4 linked regions of the Homo sapiens genome follow. The protein of the gene in region 1 interacts with the protein of each later gene in a pairwise test. Each region holds a gene or a part of one and is shown in the gene's direction. Other genes may lie near its edges.

What was found. Proteins that work in one complex are often made in the same cells at the same time.
Region 2: the proteins of KIAA0408 (region 1) and NUP58 interact in binary tests that used the Homo sapiens proteins (3 or more experiments, as listed by UniProt).
Region 3: the proteins of KIAA0408 (region 1) and GFAP interact in binary tests that used the Homo sapiens proteins (3 or more experiments, as listed by UniProt).
Region 4: the proteins of KIAA0408 (region 1) and NDUFS1 interact in binary tests that used the Homo sapiens proteins (3 or more experiments, as listed by UniProt).

The regions. Positions count from the first base shown.
Region 1 is NC_000006.12:127,440,148-127,442,389, reverse strand, and holds part of KIAA0408 (uncharacterized protein KIAA0408), read left to right. Parts: 3' UTR 1-2,242.
Region 2 is NC_000013.11:25,308,125-25,312,812, forward strand, and holds part of NUP58 (nucleoporin p58/p45), read left to right. Parts: intron 1-1,122; coding exon 1,123-1,158; intron 1,159-4,688. UniProt on the Homo sapiens protein: Component of the nuclear pore complex, a complex required for the trafficking across the nuclear membrane.
Region 3 is NC_000017.11:44,901,471-44,905,500, reverse strand, and holds the end of GFAP (glial fibrillary acidic protein), read left to right. Parts: 3' UTR 1-429; coding exon of another isoform or gene 430-1,671; 3' UTR 1,672-2,342; downstream 2,343-4,030. Other genes in the region: Ig-like V-type domain-containing protein FAM187A precursor, read right to left, coding at 430-1,671; DNAAF19 (dynein axonemal assembly factor 19), read right to left, coding at 2,684-3,136, 3,849-3,981.
Region 4 is NC_000002.12:206,148,257-206,152,944, reverse strand, and holds part of NDUFS1 (NADH-ubiquinone oxidoreductase 75 kDa subunit, mitochondrial isoform 1 precursor), read left to right. Parts: intron 1-434; coding exon 435-526; intron 527-3,019; coding exon 3,020-3,127; intron 3,128-3,848; coding exon 3,849-3,925; intron 3,926-4,688.

The DNA.
Region 1 (2,242 bases):
TTTCCAGCTAGAGGGGAGAAAACACCAGGAAAGAGGAACCCTGGGTCATAAAATGACGGACCTGTTAGGAAAATGCTGTTGTGTGACAATGGAGAGCCTGCCCAAGGACTGTGCAACCTATCTGTTCCTCTCCACCAGTGTATCCCAAGTAGTCTGGTATGATCTGTGGTTCCTTAGAATATTGAGGATCTCTTTAAAAAATGAAATTTCTGATCTCACCCCATATTACTAAAGCAAAATTTCCAGGGGTAGGGACTGGGACTCCAGAACCATTAATAAAACAAAACAAAACAAAGCAAAATATTGATGATCAGGCAGATTTGAAAACAGTGACATTGCTTGATCTCTGAATGGATGGATGCCCTTGGGTGGTCACTTTTCTTCCTAGGACTTGCCTTTGTTATCTGTAAATTAGAATGGCTATACTTTCAGACTTCACAATTTTAAGCCACTTTTTTCTATTAACAGTTGAATGAACCAGTGGGACACATTTTAACGTCTTCTTATGTTGACTAAAATTATAGTTAGAGCTGAGAAAAAAAAAATAGCATCTAGTCCAACTCCTTGATTGTAAAACTGAAAAACTAAGGTTATTTGAATGTTCTGTTTTCTCTTTTTAAATATTTTATAACTTTTAAATGGAAAAACCTATTAGGTAAATGGAAATAATCCTTGAAAATAGTTTTTGATGTTTTGTGATTTTTAACTGGTAAATTTCTACTTTAGGTGGGCATTTTCTTCCCTAGAATATGCCCTTTATTATGCTATCATTGCTAGATTTAAAGGGACTTGTAAGCATTTCTGGAAATATTTGATTTAAAAACATATATTAATAGATGTTTTCCCTAGCAGACTTTTGGAGCAAAAATATTATTTTAGTTCAGCAGAGGATTACTGATATTATGGGCTGATCTCAGAAAGGAATAAGGATGAGGCAGAGAGGAGTACTTGAGTTTGTGTGTGTGTGTGTGTGTGTGTGTTTGTGTCAGTGTCACATAAGTTCTCCATATTGCCTTATGTCCCAAAGCCAAATATAAAAATATAAATGATGCTTTGTATAATTCATTTTATCAAAAATTACCCATAACTTTCATTTGTTTTTATATCGACAATGAAGATGATCATATTTCATTTTGCAGATGTGGCCATAAAATATTATTTACTTCTATATAGGTGATTTTACCAGGTTTAGTTATCCTGAGAAAACATCTGGACTTAAGAGTTTCTGCTTCCCTACAAAGATCTTTAAAGTTATTTTTAGGCACATTTGTGACAAACAACTACTTGATATTGAAATCTCCTTCAGCCATTAGAAGCTATCAAATAAAGTAGGTGTAAAAACAACTGTCTGTGGCATTTGTATACATCGAGAACATTTTTCTTTCCCTCATTTTCTGCAGTGAACTCCAGTAAAGCTAAGTGTCTTATGAAATCTAAACTCATATATGTACACAGTTCACTCTAGCTTCTTCCAAAATATCTCTAGGTAGTACAACTGAAGCCAAACCTGCCTGACTTCCTGCTCCTGGCCACCCAAAACTCCATATGGCTTCTCGTACACTGACATCCTCTCTCTACCCATTTAACTGCTAATTGAGTCTGATAAAAGTCTTCTTTGAAAAAAGTTTTTACTTCTAAGATTTGCATTTACATCATAAAATTAAACCATTTTCAGGAAAATCAGATTTTTTTATTACAGTACTATTTGCTTTAAATTCGGCATGTTTTTCTTAAGTAGCAAGTACATGTATCGGAACTTAGAACTGGTGGGCGCGGTGGCTCTTGCCTGTAATCCCAGCACTTTGGGAGGCCAAGGTGGGGGGATCACGAGGTCAGGAGATGGAGACCATCCTGGTTTCATCACGGTGAAACCCCCTCTCTGCTAAAAATACAAAAAATTAGCCAGGCATTGTGGTGGTCACCTGTAGTCCCAGCTGCTCGGGAGGCTGAGGCAGGAGAATGGCATGAACCCGGGAGGCAGAGCTTGCAGTGAGCAGAGATCGCGCCACTGCACTCCAGCCTGGGTGACAGAGTGAGACTCTGTCTCAAAAAAAAAAAAAAAAAAGAACTTATAACTATGACTTGTTCATCTCACCCTGAAAATATGTTCCTACAAGAAAATGTGCTTTGCAAAGCAAAAAAGGCAAAAATTGGGGATGAGTTCTTCAGACAAGTACCAAAAATGATTTCTCGTCATTTTTATTGTATGCATATTCATCATAGAAAATAATTTTTTGTTTTA
Region 2 (4,688 bases), on another chromosome or scaffold:
ATTGACTGTCATCTACTCTGATATAACGAAGGAAAACATACAAATATTAATTTAAATTTTTGGATTATATAATGTAGTGTTTTTCCTTAGTGGAGATTGTGGTTTAAGCCAGCTTTATCAATTTGGAACATTAACATACGTGAGATAATCAGCACCCTTACTGTAACATAATTTCTATTTTTTTTCTTTTTTTAGATACACAGTCTTGCTCTGTTGTCTAGGCTGGAGTGCAGTGGCATGATCATGGCTCACTGTAGCCTTGCAGCCTCTCGGGCCCAAGTGATCCTCCCACCTCAGCCTCCTGAGTAGATGGGACCACACGTGTGCACCACCACGCCTGGCTAATTTTTTTTTTTTTTTTTTTACTTTTTTACTTTTTGTAGAGAAGAGGTCTCCTCCTGGTCTTAAATTCCTGAGGTCAAGTGATCCTCCTGCTTTGGCCTCTCAGAGTGCTGGGATTATAGGCCTGAGTTACCATGCCTGGTCTATAATTTACGTTCCTAAGAGATGTTTTACATTTTTGTATTATTAAAACAAAGTGGGAAAAGGGCAATAGGTAAAGGACTTGAAGGTTTCAAAACAATAGAAAGTTTTTGTTTTTAGTACAGCTGGAAAAATAATGTTTCACTGGAGCTGACCATTTAAAAAGTTTGCTTCTTTATTTACCCCTTATTTTCTACCCTTAGAGCCTCTTGGTCATTCTTACTACTTTTTGCGTTGATCTTCCAGCTTTGAGTGCAGCACATTTCACAGCCACATCTAGAAAATGGAAGAACTACAGGAATAAATATGAGCAGATTAGTCAGTGAGCTGCTTGAGACAGCTCAGTATAGCATTTTGTTTGGAGTTGCTTTTTTTGGTCTTGCTTAATTTTGTTATAAGCAATAGTTATTTGCATTTTATAAATTTTATTCCTTAATCAAATTATGTATGGCTTGTAATATGAAAACCAGTGCTATGGGAAAAATGCGTGATTAGTGGCAGATACTATGATATGTATTGTTCTAATTAGAAGTGTTGTCACTCCCTGAGGGTGATTTTAAGTCTTTCCCTTATGACAGGTAAACCTAAAGAATGTCATCTTCATTGATGATTAAATTTTATTTCTCTTTTTGTCCCCAGGAATAGCAACAACTATAACTACAGGATTAACTCTGGGTAAGAATTTTTGAGGAAAGATCCCAGCTCTGTGGTCTTCTAATAATTTTAATAAATTGAGTGATCTTTCTACTCTTCTCTCTTCTAATATTTCACAGAGCTGGAGTATAGAAAAAAGTGTGTATCACAGATGGTGACTTATCGGAGAACCTTTCAGTATTTGAGTAGTGAAAAAAAGGAATGACTTCGTAGAGTACTTTTATAATTCAGAAAAGTATTTTAAATGCAGAAATTGTTTTTAATGTGGAAGTTTATTTCATATTACTTTTTTAGTCATTTGACTCCAGTTAGTGGAAAAAACACCAAACTTTAAGCCAGAAATTTTGGAATTAAGCCTCTAAAATACTTGTGAGGCCTTAGGTAATGTTTGGGGCTTTTAGTTATCTATAAAATTGAGGGTATTGAACTAATATCCAAAGACATAATACTTTCTGTAGTGTTAACGCTAAAGGGAATGTGAATAACTAGGGTTTCAGCCAGCTTTCAATCTGGATGGCAGTAAACAATGTGAAAGGAAAGGAAAAGGAAATGAAAGAACATTCAGAAGCTCTTAAATTGAATTTTAAGTTAAAGGAAAGGAAAAGGAAATGAAAGAACATTCAGAAGCTCTTAAATTGAGTTTTAAGTTAAGGATTGGCAGACTTTCTTCATTTGGATGCTACACCTGTTATTAACAGAAAACAACACATCTGTTTATCAGCAAAGTTTTGGACTGGATCAGCTGCAAACACAAGCAAGTGAATCTTCTTGTTTTCTTTTTTGCTTTTTTTTCCCCTATCAGACAGGTTCTTCCTCTGTTGCCCAGGCTGGAGTGCAGTGGCACCATCACAGCTCACTGCAACCTCAAACTCTTGGGCTCAAGCGATCTTCTCTGGGGTTCCCAAGTAGCTAGGACTACAGGCACATACCACAACCCTTGGCTAATTTTTTTTTTTTTTTTTTTTTTTTTTTTTTAGAGACGGAATTTTGCTCTTGTTGCCCAGGCTGGAGTGCAATGGTGCAATCTTGGCTCACCGCAACTTCCGCCTCCTGGGTTCAAGTGATTCTCTTGCCTCAGCTTCCTGAGTAGCTGGGATTACAGGCATGTGCCACCACGCCTGGCTAATTTTGTATTTTTAGTAGAGATGGGGTTTCTCCATGTTGGTCAGGCTGGTCTCGAACTCCCAACCTCAGGTGATCCACCCGCCTTGGCCTTCCGAAGTGCTGGGATTACAGGCGTGAGCCACTGTGCCTGGCCTTTTTTTTTTTTTTTTTTTTTTTGGTAGAGACAAGGTCTCAGTATGTTGCCTAGGCTGGTCATGGACTCCTAGCCTCAAGCCACGTGCCCTCTTTGGCCTCCCAAAGTGCTGGGATTACAGGCTTGAGCCACACCAAGCCTGAGTCTTGTTTTCTGAGGTTGTAACCCCATACGTGATTTCAAAGCACTGCACTCTGGCAGGAACTTCTAGTTGTGATCAGGGCAATCCAGAAGCATAGTTTCTGGCTTCTTTTCTCTCAGTGATTTCAGGTTAAGTCATGCAGGTCATTCATACATTTCTTTATTTAATATTGTTTGAGCAGTTACTACTTCCTAACCATGCAGCCTTGTGTCTACATAATGCCTTGAACATTGAATATTGTGGCACTGCTGGTGAGGATGGTCCTTGATGATGACATTGGGAACTGCTAAGGGTTGGAGCAAGACAGTCAGTCTGTTGTGAGGTGAAAGGGATAGGCAGGTATATTAACATGTTCTTGTATAATCCGATAAATGTCCTAAAAGATGTAGAGGCACCATGAAAGGCAGAGGAAGAAAACAGTATGGTTTACTTTATGGGCAGGAAGCACTTCAGAGAGAGGAGTGGCAAGTGCAAAGGCCCAGTCATAAAAGCGTTCTGGGAAATATGAAGTATTTTGGTTTTGGAGCTTAGAAATCAGAGGTGGAAATGGTGGGCAGAGTTGAGAATTGAGGAGCAGGTTGGGACCAGATAGGAAAGGGAGGTATATGTCGTGCCTTTAGACTCTATTTTAAAGACAATCTAGAGCTAATAGGAACCTTAAATTGGGCAGAATCACCAGGATATTTGTGGGGGTTTTTTGTTTGTGTTTTCTTTTTGTTTTTGTTTTTTATGAGACGGAGTTTTGGTCTTGTTGCACAGGCTGGAGTGCAATGGCGTGATCTCAGCTCACCACAACCTCTGCCTCCCAGGTTCAAACAATTCTCCTGTCTCAGCCTCCCGAGTAGCTGGGATTACAGGCATGCGCCACCACGCCCAGCTAATTTTGTATTTTTAGTAGAAACGGGGTTTCACCATGTTGGCCAGGCTGGTCTCGAACTCCTGACCTAAGGTGATCTGCCCACTTTGGCTTCCCAAAGTGCTGGGATTACAGACGTGAGCCACGGCACCTGTCTTTTTTTTTTTTTTTTTTTTTAAGGTAACCAAGATAATTTTAAGAATAGATTAGAGGTTAGAAGAGACTGATACCAGAGAAATAAATGCTGTTGTAGTAGTTCTTAAGAGAGATATGGCCTAAGCTAAGGTTTTTAAGGATGCTTGTAGTACAGGATATTTCTGAAGTAGGATCGACAGGATTTGTAACTAATGGAGTACAGGAGAAGGAAAGGATGTCAAGGATGACTGGTTTCTGGCTTAAGCAATTGAACTGAGCAAGGTTGGAGATATAGCAAAAAATGTTTGTGGTGAGATATGTAGGAGGCCAAAGGGACATCAAGATAGAACTAGACAATGAGGACTTAGGTAAATGTCAGTTTAGACTTAATCACCTGTAGGAGAAATGATGAAAGTGGGTGTGTCATTGGGGAAGTAAGGAGGTAGGAATGGAACTCTAGGAAGTGTCAGTTAAGACATGAACAGAGGAAAGAGAGCTACAGAAAAAAAGGACTGAAAAGGAATAGGGAGACAGCTGGGGGCTGACAGAGACACAAGGGCCAGAAGAAAGGAATAGAGAATGGTTATTGATAGAGTATTAGAGAGGAGGGACCATTTTTCTGCTGAGAGGGAAAGGAGGAGGATAAATGCTGCATTAGAGGTAAATCTAGGAGTAGAATAAAAATTGATATGTTACATCGATTGGATTTTCTTTTCTGTTTTTTTATTTTTTGAGACAGAGTCTCACTCTTGTCTCCCAGGCTGGAGTGCAGTGGCACGATTTCAGCTCACTGCAACCTCCCCCTCCCAGGTTCAAGTGACTCTCGTACCTCAGCCTCCCGAGTAGCTGGGGTTACAAGTGTGCACCACCACATTGAGCTAATTTTTGTATTTTAGCTAGAGGCAGGGTTTCACCGTGTTGGCCAGGCTGGTCTTGAACTCCTGACCTCAAGCAATCTGCCCATCTTGGCCTCCCAAAGTTTTGGGATCACAGGCGTGAGCCACTGTACCTGGCCATTCTTTTGTTTTTCTTAAAGAGCCATCTTTTTTGTGTTCACCATGGTTTAGTCTCAACTTTTACATATTTTCTCTCACAGATACACCCTTCTTCTATTGGCAAAAGGTAGTATCATGAACTTTTAAGGATCCTTATTGAAACCA
Region 3 (4,030 bases), on another chromosome or scaffold:
GCCAAAGAGGACATACACCAGCTCCCTCCACTCTTTTCTTCCTTCCTCTCCCTGCTACCTGCAACTCAACCAGCACAATCTTCATAGGCAAGAAAGCAAAGCAGCTCAAACATGATTCAACACTGATCAGTGTTTACCACTGGATAAATCTGAGTTCACACTTTCCTTCTCTGACCTAAATGTGAAGTCAGGAAACACATGTGCCCTACTTCCATCCTGAGCTCAGTCCCCAATCTCCCACCAGCCTCAGGCCCCTCCACTTCTCAGATCAGGTCCCAGACCTGCCCATGAAAATGGGGAGCAGGCTGTAACAGATTTGTCCACATGTTCCTACCACCTGTCCCAACCCAGGGTACCCACCCAGAGACATCTGGTATCATTTAACAAACACATTGAAGGACAACTGGTCTTCAGAGCTGAAGAGAGCTCCTAGGGGGAGAAGCTGGGACAACAGTGAAATAAGTAGCAGCAGCAACGACAGAAGTGAATGGTGACAAAGACTGCTGTGATGAGCAGGTAGCCTATCAGGGTGAGCTCCACAGCCGAGCGAGTCTCAGGATCTGAGAACGAGGCTGGGTAGTGCCCATGAGATGTCACACCCAGCCGGAAGCCAGCAACTAGCACACCCTGCCTCCAGCAATAGTAGATGCCCCGGTCATCCAGCTGGGTGAAGCGGATGTGGAGCTGGTTGCCGTGGTCAATGAACACCCTCATGGACCTGTTGACACCCTTCAGGTACTGTGTGCGGTAGAGGTGCTGGCGGTCTTTGTCCCAGGCCACTGCATGCTCTGGCCGGGCCCCAGGACAGGAGATGATGAGTCCATGGCCCAGTCTCTGCTGGTGGAACTGAATGGGCACCTGGGGCACCCAGGGCCGGCTGCCCACTTTGGACACATAGTTAATGATGGCCAGCACGCCCTCCCGGATGGTCTTTGTCTTCTCACAGGGTACTAAGCAGCTCCGAACCAGCACCTCAGGCGTGTGGTCCCTGGCCTTGGTCCGCAGCTTCCTTGGCACAGCCCTTGAGCCACAAGACACCACATCGGGCACGGCCTTGAGGTAGCGTGGGGAGAGGTCTGGGCTCTGCAGGTAGCAGAGGCCGATGCGCCACTGCTCCCCACGCACTCCGCAGCGGTCACAGGGGGTCCATTCCCAGAAGGTGGTGAAGACATGGAGGTGCCCATAGTATTCATCTGCAAAGGGCTCCTGGCCCTTGTCCTGGAAAGTGGCCACCATTCCCTCACTGTTCTGGATGTCCACATCGTAGGCGTAAAAGTAGTCCCCCTTGCGGGTGCCGCAGAAGTACAGGCCTGAGTCCTCAGACTGAGCCCTGAAAACCAACAAGCTGAACATGCGGATGCTGAAGCGGGTCAGCATGTCGCTGCCCACACGTACCTGGGCTGCCTCCGTCAGCACCCGCCCATCAAAGTCCGTCAGCACTTTGGTGTGGCTGCTACCTAGGTGCTTTTGGTAGAACCAGACTACAGCTGGCACCTCTTCGGGTTTGCAGTGACAGGGAAGCTCAAAGCTCATGTCGGCCAGGTAGGCTGCATTTTCAAACATCAGGAAAGCAGGGCAGGGGGTCCTCTGAAAAATGTTTTCCTTCTCCACAATTTCAAAGGCCTGGAGCCCCCATGCCCACAGGAGCACAGTGGTGAGGGCCAGGTGCATACCTGAAGGAGGCAGGGGTCAGAGGGGCAGGGCAAAACCAGGGCATTAAAGGCTCATAGGGCTCCTAGAAAGCTCTGCTAAGCGGAAGCCTCTAGATGAGGAAAGGATTATGCAGCCAGGAAAAGCAGCAACAATCTGCAGAGGAAGCCGCCAAGTGCAAGGCAATTTATTCCCAGTGGATGTACAAGATGCCCTTCTAACATTCCAGACCTGATCTCAGGGTGGGGGGGGAAAGCCATTCTAGAACCTGGCCTTTACTCCCCTTTCTAGAACACTGGCGCTCACCCAAGAATGGGTCAAAGGAAACCGGAATGAGAAGGGCGGGCCGAGGTGCTCGGGCAGGGAGATCTCTGCCTCAGTGCTCCAGGCCCTGCCCTGCCAGCCTGGTGGAAAAGTCTTTCATCAACCTGGGGGATGAAGGAAACCCACCCTCCTGCATATCTGGCCATCCGGGAGGCTGGCTGGACCTGAGCTGATGGCTTGGGACTTTCCCAGGCCCAACCTGCACAAGAACTGAGTCTCTAGGGGAAAATTCAACACCTCAAATGATGTAGTATTTGATCATTTGTTGATTACATGTCCATTCATTGGTTTGGGGCTATAAACATTCTTGTTAAGAGCTGTGGAGATCAGTGTTTGTTTACCATAAAGATTTTGCTTTTTCCCTTTTATGAGTGGAGGCTGTAACTGGTATAGCCAGCATTTGGTTGGGCACACACTCATCTCTCAAGGCCAGTGGGCTAGAGGCTTGGCAGACTCTAAGGGTGGGAAACAAAACCGCTCTCAACTTCCTGAGCTCTTGACTGTCCATGGATACACACAGTTCAAAACAGCGAGACACTGAGGGACTGGAGAAGTGGGGAAGACTTGATTCCTGTTTTTGCTCTGAAAATTCCAAGTTGAGAAGGGAACCAGGTGTGGGTTTCTTATTATGGTCCTGCAGAACCCCCAAGACAACAACCAAAAAACTGCCTCCAGTGACCACTGGGACCTCTGAGGGTAGCTTGCCGCATCAGTCAACCTGGTACAGCTCCAGCAGCTCCTGCAGGAGCCTCTCCTCCTCCTGGAGCCCACCAGACTGCTCCTCCAGACCCTGCTCCTCCCAGCTGAGCCCCTCCTTCACGGATCTGGGGTTGCCCATGGCTTGCAGCTTCTGAAACAAGCCCTTGCAGCTCTCTCTCTCTGCCCGGCTCAGCAGGCTTAGGTTCAGGGTGAAGCGCCCAGTGCTCGCCAGGCTGCATAGGATCCCCAGCACCGCTGCCCGGTCAGCCGGCCCCACGTGATCAGCCAGTGCCACCAGCAGCTCCCCAAGAAGTCCAAATCCCACATCTGTCTGGAAGAGGCAGCCGAGCCTTGGACCCCCAAGCTGCAGTAGAGCCTGGTAGCGCTCTGGCCCACTTGGCAAGTGTCGTCGCCAATCACGATAGAAGTCAGCAGACGTCTCGGGCTGGAGGGGGGCTTTCTCCTGGACCACAAAGGAAGGAAAGGGAGTCAGGAGCTCTTCCAGCTGTTCTGCAACAGTGACAGGGAGGGGAGCCTGTAGCTCTTCATCTTACTGTCTTCATCTCACTACTGTCTGAGCACTGGGAAAGCTGTGGTCCTTGGCGGCCTCATTTTCAGATGAGGAAACTGGGGATGAAACAGGGAGGGCCCCAAGGAATCCACGCCATGATTTGAGATTCTCATTTATACTGGAATTTTCCTACTCATGAATGGAGACATAGCTCTGGTCTTCAAGAGTAAGTCAGGGTTTACTGTAAGTCGGGTGGATGGGTTGATTGGAAATCTCAGGAAGAGAGAAAGGAACTCAAGGATCTGAATGTTGGGGTCTCTCTCTCAACACTGCCACAGGATCATTACACTAGACACCATACAACCCAGAGGCAGAGCATCCCAATTCTGATCTGAGAATGAAAGTCAAAGGACTAAGGGAAGCCGACCTTCCTAGCCCAACTTTCTGACTCATTCTGCCCACTTCAACTCAGCTTTGCCATCTGCTGTTTGTTTTTCTTTCTGGGATTGGAGGCAGAAACCTATCTCTGTTGGTTTAACATGACAAATAAAGAAGAGGTATGTGTGGTTAAAAAAACAAAACAAAACAAAACAAAATGAAAAAACAGGATTGAAGCTTTAGGGCAGAGAATCCTGCTGGACTAAAGGGGCAGGGCCTCACCTACCGGGGAGATTTCAGTGGCCACATCCTGGAAGGTCCTTCCCTGAATAGTGTGACAGTTCCAGGGCACAGTTCTCTTTCCTCCCATCTTATCCTTCCGCTCCAGTGGCTTCAGATGTGATGCAAGGACAATACCCCTGTAGGCAAAGGACAGAAATTAGGCAATGGACTTAATGCTGTGTCTGT
Region 4 (4,688 bases), on another chromosome or scaffold:
ATTACTTGAGGTCAGGAGTTTGAGACCATCCTGGCCAATATGGCGAAACCCTGTCTCTACTAAAAATACAAAAATTAGCGGGCGTGGTGGTGAGTTCCTGTAATCCCAGCTACTCGGAAGGCTGAGGCAGGAGAATCGCTTGAACCGGGGAGGTGGAGGTTGTAGTGAGCCAAGATGGCGCCACTGCACTCCAGCCTGGGTGACAGGGCAAGACTCCCTCTCAAAAAAAAAAAAAAAAAAAGAAGAAGAAAGAAGTTTCAGTTTAAACTACTCTGCTATCAAAAGTAGACAACCATAAGTTTGCATCCAGAGCAATACAGAGGAATAATAAGGAATGAAAAATTTTAGGTTTGTAGTTAGAGTCAATTCATCCATTATCATCTGCTATAATAAACTGTTAATCTGTTTTTCGCTTCAATATCTTTGATGGTCAGTTCGAACAACTGCCACAGCAGCAAGCAACTTGATTGAAGTATTTGTTGATGGTCAGTCTGTCATGGTGGAACCGGGAACGACCGTCCTCCAAGTAGGCATACATTCTAACTATTTTGTGTGTGTGTTCTGATTTTTTTAAAAATACTAATTTATTTCCTTTATACTGATTATTAGTAAATAATTCTTTAAAATAACTATACACAGCAAAGTTATATTAAAATTATTTCATTTTAAATCTTGGCACTTCAAAGTGAGCTATCATATATTTGTTTGTGGCATTTTTAGTGAATTATGGTAGTTCTTTTGTTTCACTTTTCATTCCAAATGAATACCCATTAAGAAATTTGAAGTCCGAGCGCAGTGGCTCATGCCTGTAATCCCAGCACTTTGGGAGGCCGAGGCGGGCGGATCATTCAGGAGTTCTAGACCAGCCTGGCCAGCACTGTGAAACCCCTTCTCTACTAAAAATACAAAAAATTAGCTGCGCATCGTGGCGCGCACCTGTAATCCCAGCTACTCGAGAGGCTGAGGCAGGAGAATTGCTTGAACCCAGGAGGCGGAGGTTGCAGTGAGCCGAGATTGTGCCACTGCACTCCAGCCTGGGCAACAGAGCAAGACTCTGTCTCAAAAAAAAAGAAAAGAAATTTGAAGTAACTTAAATTAGTTACTATAGGTAAGTTTGTGAAAAAATAACCTCCATTTGTTGTGGGCCTGCTTAATGCTTTTCATTTTCATATAACCTTTCTGTGGTTAGTAATATTCATAGGAATATATCCTACAAAGCAGGTAAATGGAGGGTAGCATGTGCTTACATTCATGCTCTAAATATTTCTTCATATTCCTCCAGAAATAATAAATTGGTCATAGAGAAGTCATGCTTCACTCCATTTGTAAGTTGTCACAGATCTAAATGTTCTTTGTTCATTTTAGCAGTCATTTCTAGACTATCTGCCAGTCACAGACATGAAAGCACAAAATATGATATAAATGTATGTTCAAGGTACAGTGAAAAGTTGTGGCAGGGATAGGAGGTAGTAGAAAGAGGTATTGGGTGCCTCAGGTCATCCCTGAGGAGGTGTTAAAGGATGAACAGGTGTGTTCATATTGTGAACAAGAACGACATGCTTGCATTTCCTATGGAAAAAGTTAAGGCAGATAGCTTGTCATATTTTGAAAGCTTCAAATAGTTTAATATTGATGAAACATAAGGTATAAGTAGAAGATGAGATCACAGGAAATCAAGTTATTGAGGAAGGGAAGGTCCAGTCATGAAATACAGTATCTGCTATGCAGAAGAGCTTATATTTTGATCCATCAGGAGTTTTGTTGCCTATTTAAACAGGGTGACAGCGACTGTAGAGGATGATCATTTGGAGAATAGCAAGACTGGAATAAGAGACAAGGAAAAAGCATTTTGTATTATTGGGACAGGATACTACAAAAGCCCTAAAATAGATAGTGTCAATGGGAATGAAAACAAGAGAGTAGATTCAAGGGAGAATGAAATGTAGACAGGCCTTCAGGAATGATGAAGACCCGAGGGATTTTTTCCCCCGTCGTACAGAACTTCCCAATATTGCTTTAACAGTGAGAAAAAAAAAACACAAAAGAAGTTTCAGTAGAGCCACAGACAAATAGTTCTTTAGAACTCAAAGAGACCGGAGGAATTCTTGTGGTTTTCTGCATTTGTTAGGTTATTTTGGAGTGTATAGAGGGGAGAGAAATCATTTGAATTTAAGCTGTCTGTGGAACATACACATGCAAATACCTGTAAATCTGAAGCTTGGAGAAGTGGAGGTCTAACATGGCTGCAGATTAAGGTTTGGACATAATCAGCATAAGGAATGTCAGCTAGGATGAAGGCTGGGACACTATCTGTCTTTTTCACTACTATACCTGCATCCTGCACAAAGGAAAGACTCAACACATTTTTGCTAACTAAATAGTTTAAACACTGGAAATTGATGAGATTGCTTTAGAATGAAGGCTGAGGATGAGGAACTAACTCTAGAGGAAATTTGAACATGTTTATAGACTAAAAGGAGGAAGAAATTGCAGAGCAGGGTAGGTGATAATTGGCAGAGCAGGGATAATCCCCCTTACTGGGCAAACAGAAACTGGGAAAACCTTCAGCCACAGTGGGAGGTGAGTCCTGGGTAGCATATAGGAGCCAAAGACAGATAGCCAGCTAGATAATGTGTAGTGAAATCTCTAATCCAAAGGAGGGGAGCGAGGCAAAGAAGAAGTCCAGGTATGAAACCACTGGGGACATTGTGGACAATGGTTCAAAATGGATGTGGGAAGTCAAGTCTTCAGCACAGTGGAAGGATACTTTATCCAGTTTCTTCCACATAAGGTGAAGTCACGCCAAGGATCCTGAGATCCTCTGAGGCAGCTTCAGAGGAGACGGGTTAGAATCAAAGGCAAAGAAAGGGACTGAAATAAGAATGAATTAAGATAGATAGATAGATAGATAGATAGATAGAAGTAATAAGATGCTGTATGTGTGTGTTTCAGCAATAACAGCAGTGAAGTCAGGTTATTCTAATGCTTTTTTTTTTTTTTTTTTTTTTTTTACTTCTAGGCTTGTGAGAAGGTTGGCATGCAGATCCCTCGATTCTGTTATCATGAAAGGTTGTCTGTTGCTGGAAACTGCAGGATGTGCCTTGTTGAAATTGAGAAAGCCCCTAAGGTACTTGATACCTAAAATTCTACACCATGCTGTAGAAGGTAGAAAACTTTAAATCTTGCAGCAAACTTTATTTAGAATCAATATCGTAGTGGAGAACCTAGCCCTCTTTACTTCTATCTATAAATTTAATTCTTTTGTACAATTGATTCTCTTCATTTCAAAACTGGAAACACATAGATAGAAGTGCTTTACAAACACATGTCATATAATTGTAACATATCTAGAAATTAAAGGTGATTTATAGTTGTCAGTATTTCCAAATGGCTGTATAATATATAACCAGGATGTAGAGTTGCCAAGTAGCACATTAAAAGTGCTGACGCCCTGCCATTTTTAGTAGAGAAAAGGGTTGCAGGGAAGAAGTTCACTTTCAGTAGTTTAATTTCATTTTGGTGTATGCAATTTTTTTATTCAATAGTGCCTGCTAATCAAAGCAGTTATTTGGTGTTCTGTTTCAGAGCAGAATAAAAAATTGCATTGACTATTAGAATAAACCTAAAAACCAGGATGTTTTATTTCTGAGATAAATGCAAAGTACTAGATCATCGTATTATGAATATGAAAACTTAACAAAATTCAGTTTTAAAAAATACCCTATTCTTTGCCTGTTATCAAATGTATAATTTAATGTTTTTATATAATTTAACATTTTTATATATTGAGTTGCTTGTAATCACAAATAAATACAAATACACATTTTTTTTTTTCATTGAAATCCCAGGTTGTAGCTGCTTGTGCCATGCCAGTAATGAAGGGTTGGAATATCCTAACAAACTCAGAAAAATCCAAAAAAGCCAGGTACTTTATTGTTATTCAATGTAGTACCCTTTCATAAAGCAGAAAATTGCACATTTTGGTATTTAGACCTTCCCATAGATTAAGAATTTAATATCAAACTCGGAAGAAGTTGGTGTGCTCAGCTTCTAGGAGCAATAGAAGTGAGTACTACATAGTAGAGAAGGTGAAGTCAGGAGTTTATGGTATTGAGCTTTAGGATCAGCATTAAAAATCCTTCTTTAGTAACTTGCTCAACTTGTGAAGAAGGGTGAATCTGGACTTACTAAGCTACTACTATACTATACTGGGATTGATTGTGTTTGTTTTTATTTTGAATTAATGTGAATATTTTCTGAGGACCATTCAGCAACTTTTGATCATTCGGTATTGTTAAAAGTTACAATTTTCTTTATTTTTTGAAACGAGGTCTCACTATGTTGTCCAGGCTGGGCTTGAACTCCTGGCCTCAGGTGATCATCCTGCCTCAGCCTCCCTCCCATAGTTCTGGGATTACAGACGTGAGCCACCAAACCTGACCAAAAATCATAATTTTCTATGTTCTCTAATGATACTTTATTCTAGGCTCCTCTAAGCATTTTCCAGATTGTGTGTTTAATACTACCAGAATGATACTCGGGAGGATCACTTGAGCCCAGGAGCTCGAGTCCAGCCTGGGCAACATAGCAAGACCCCGTCTCTTAAAAAAAATATTACCACAATGATAGATAATTGGCATTTCTGATATTAAATGTAAAATTACTATTAATTGTATAACAAATATACA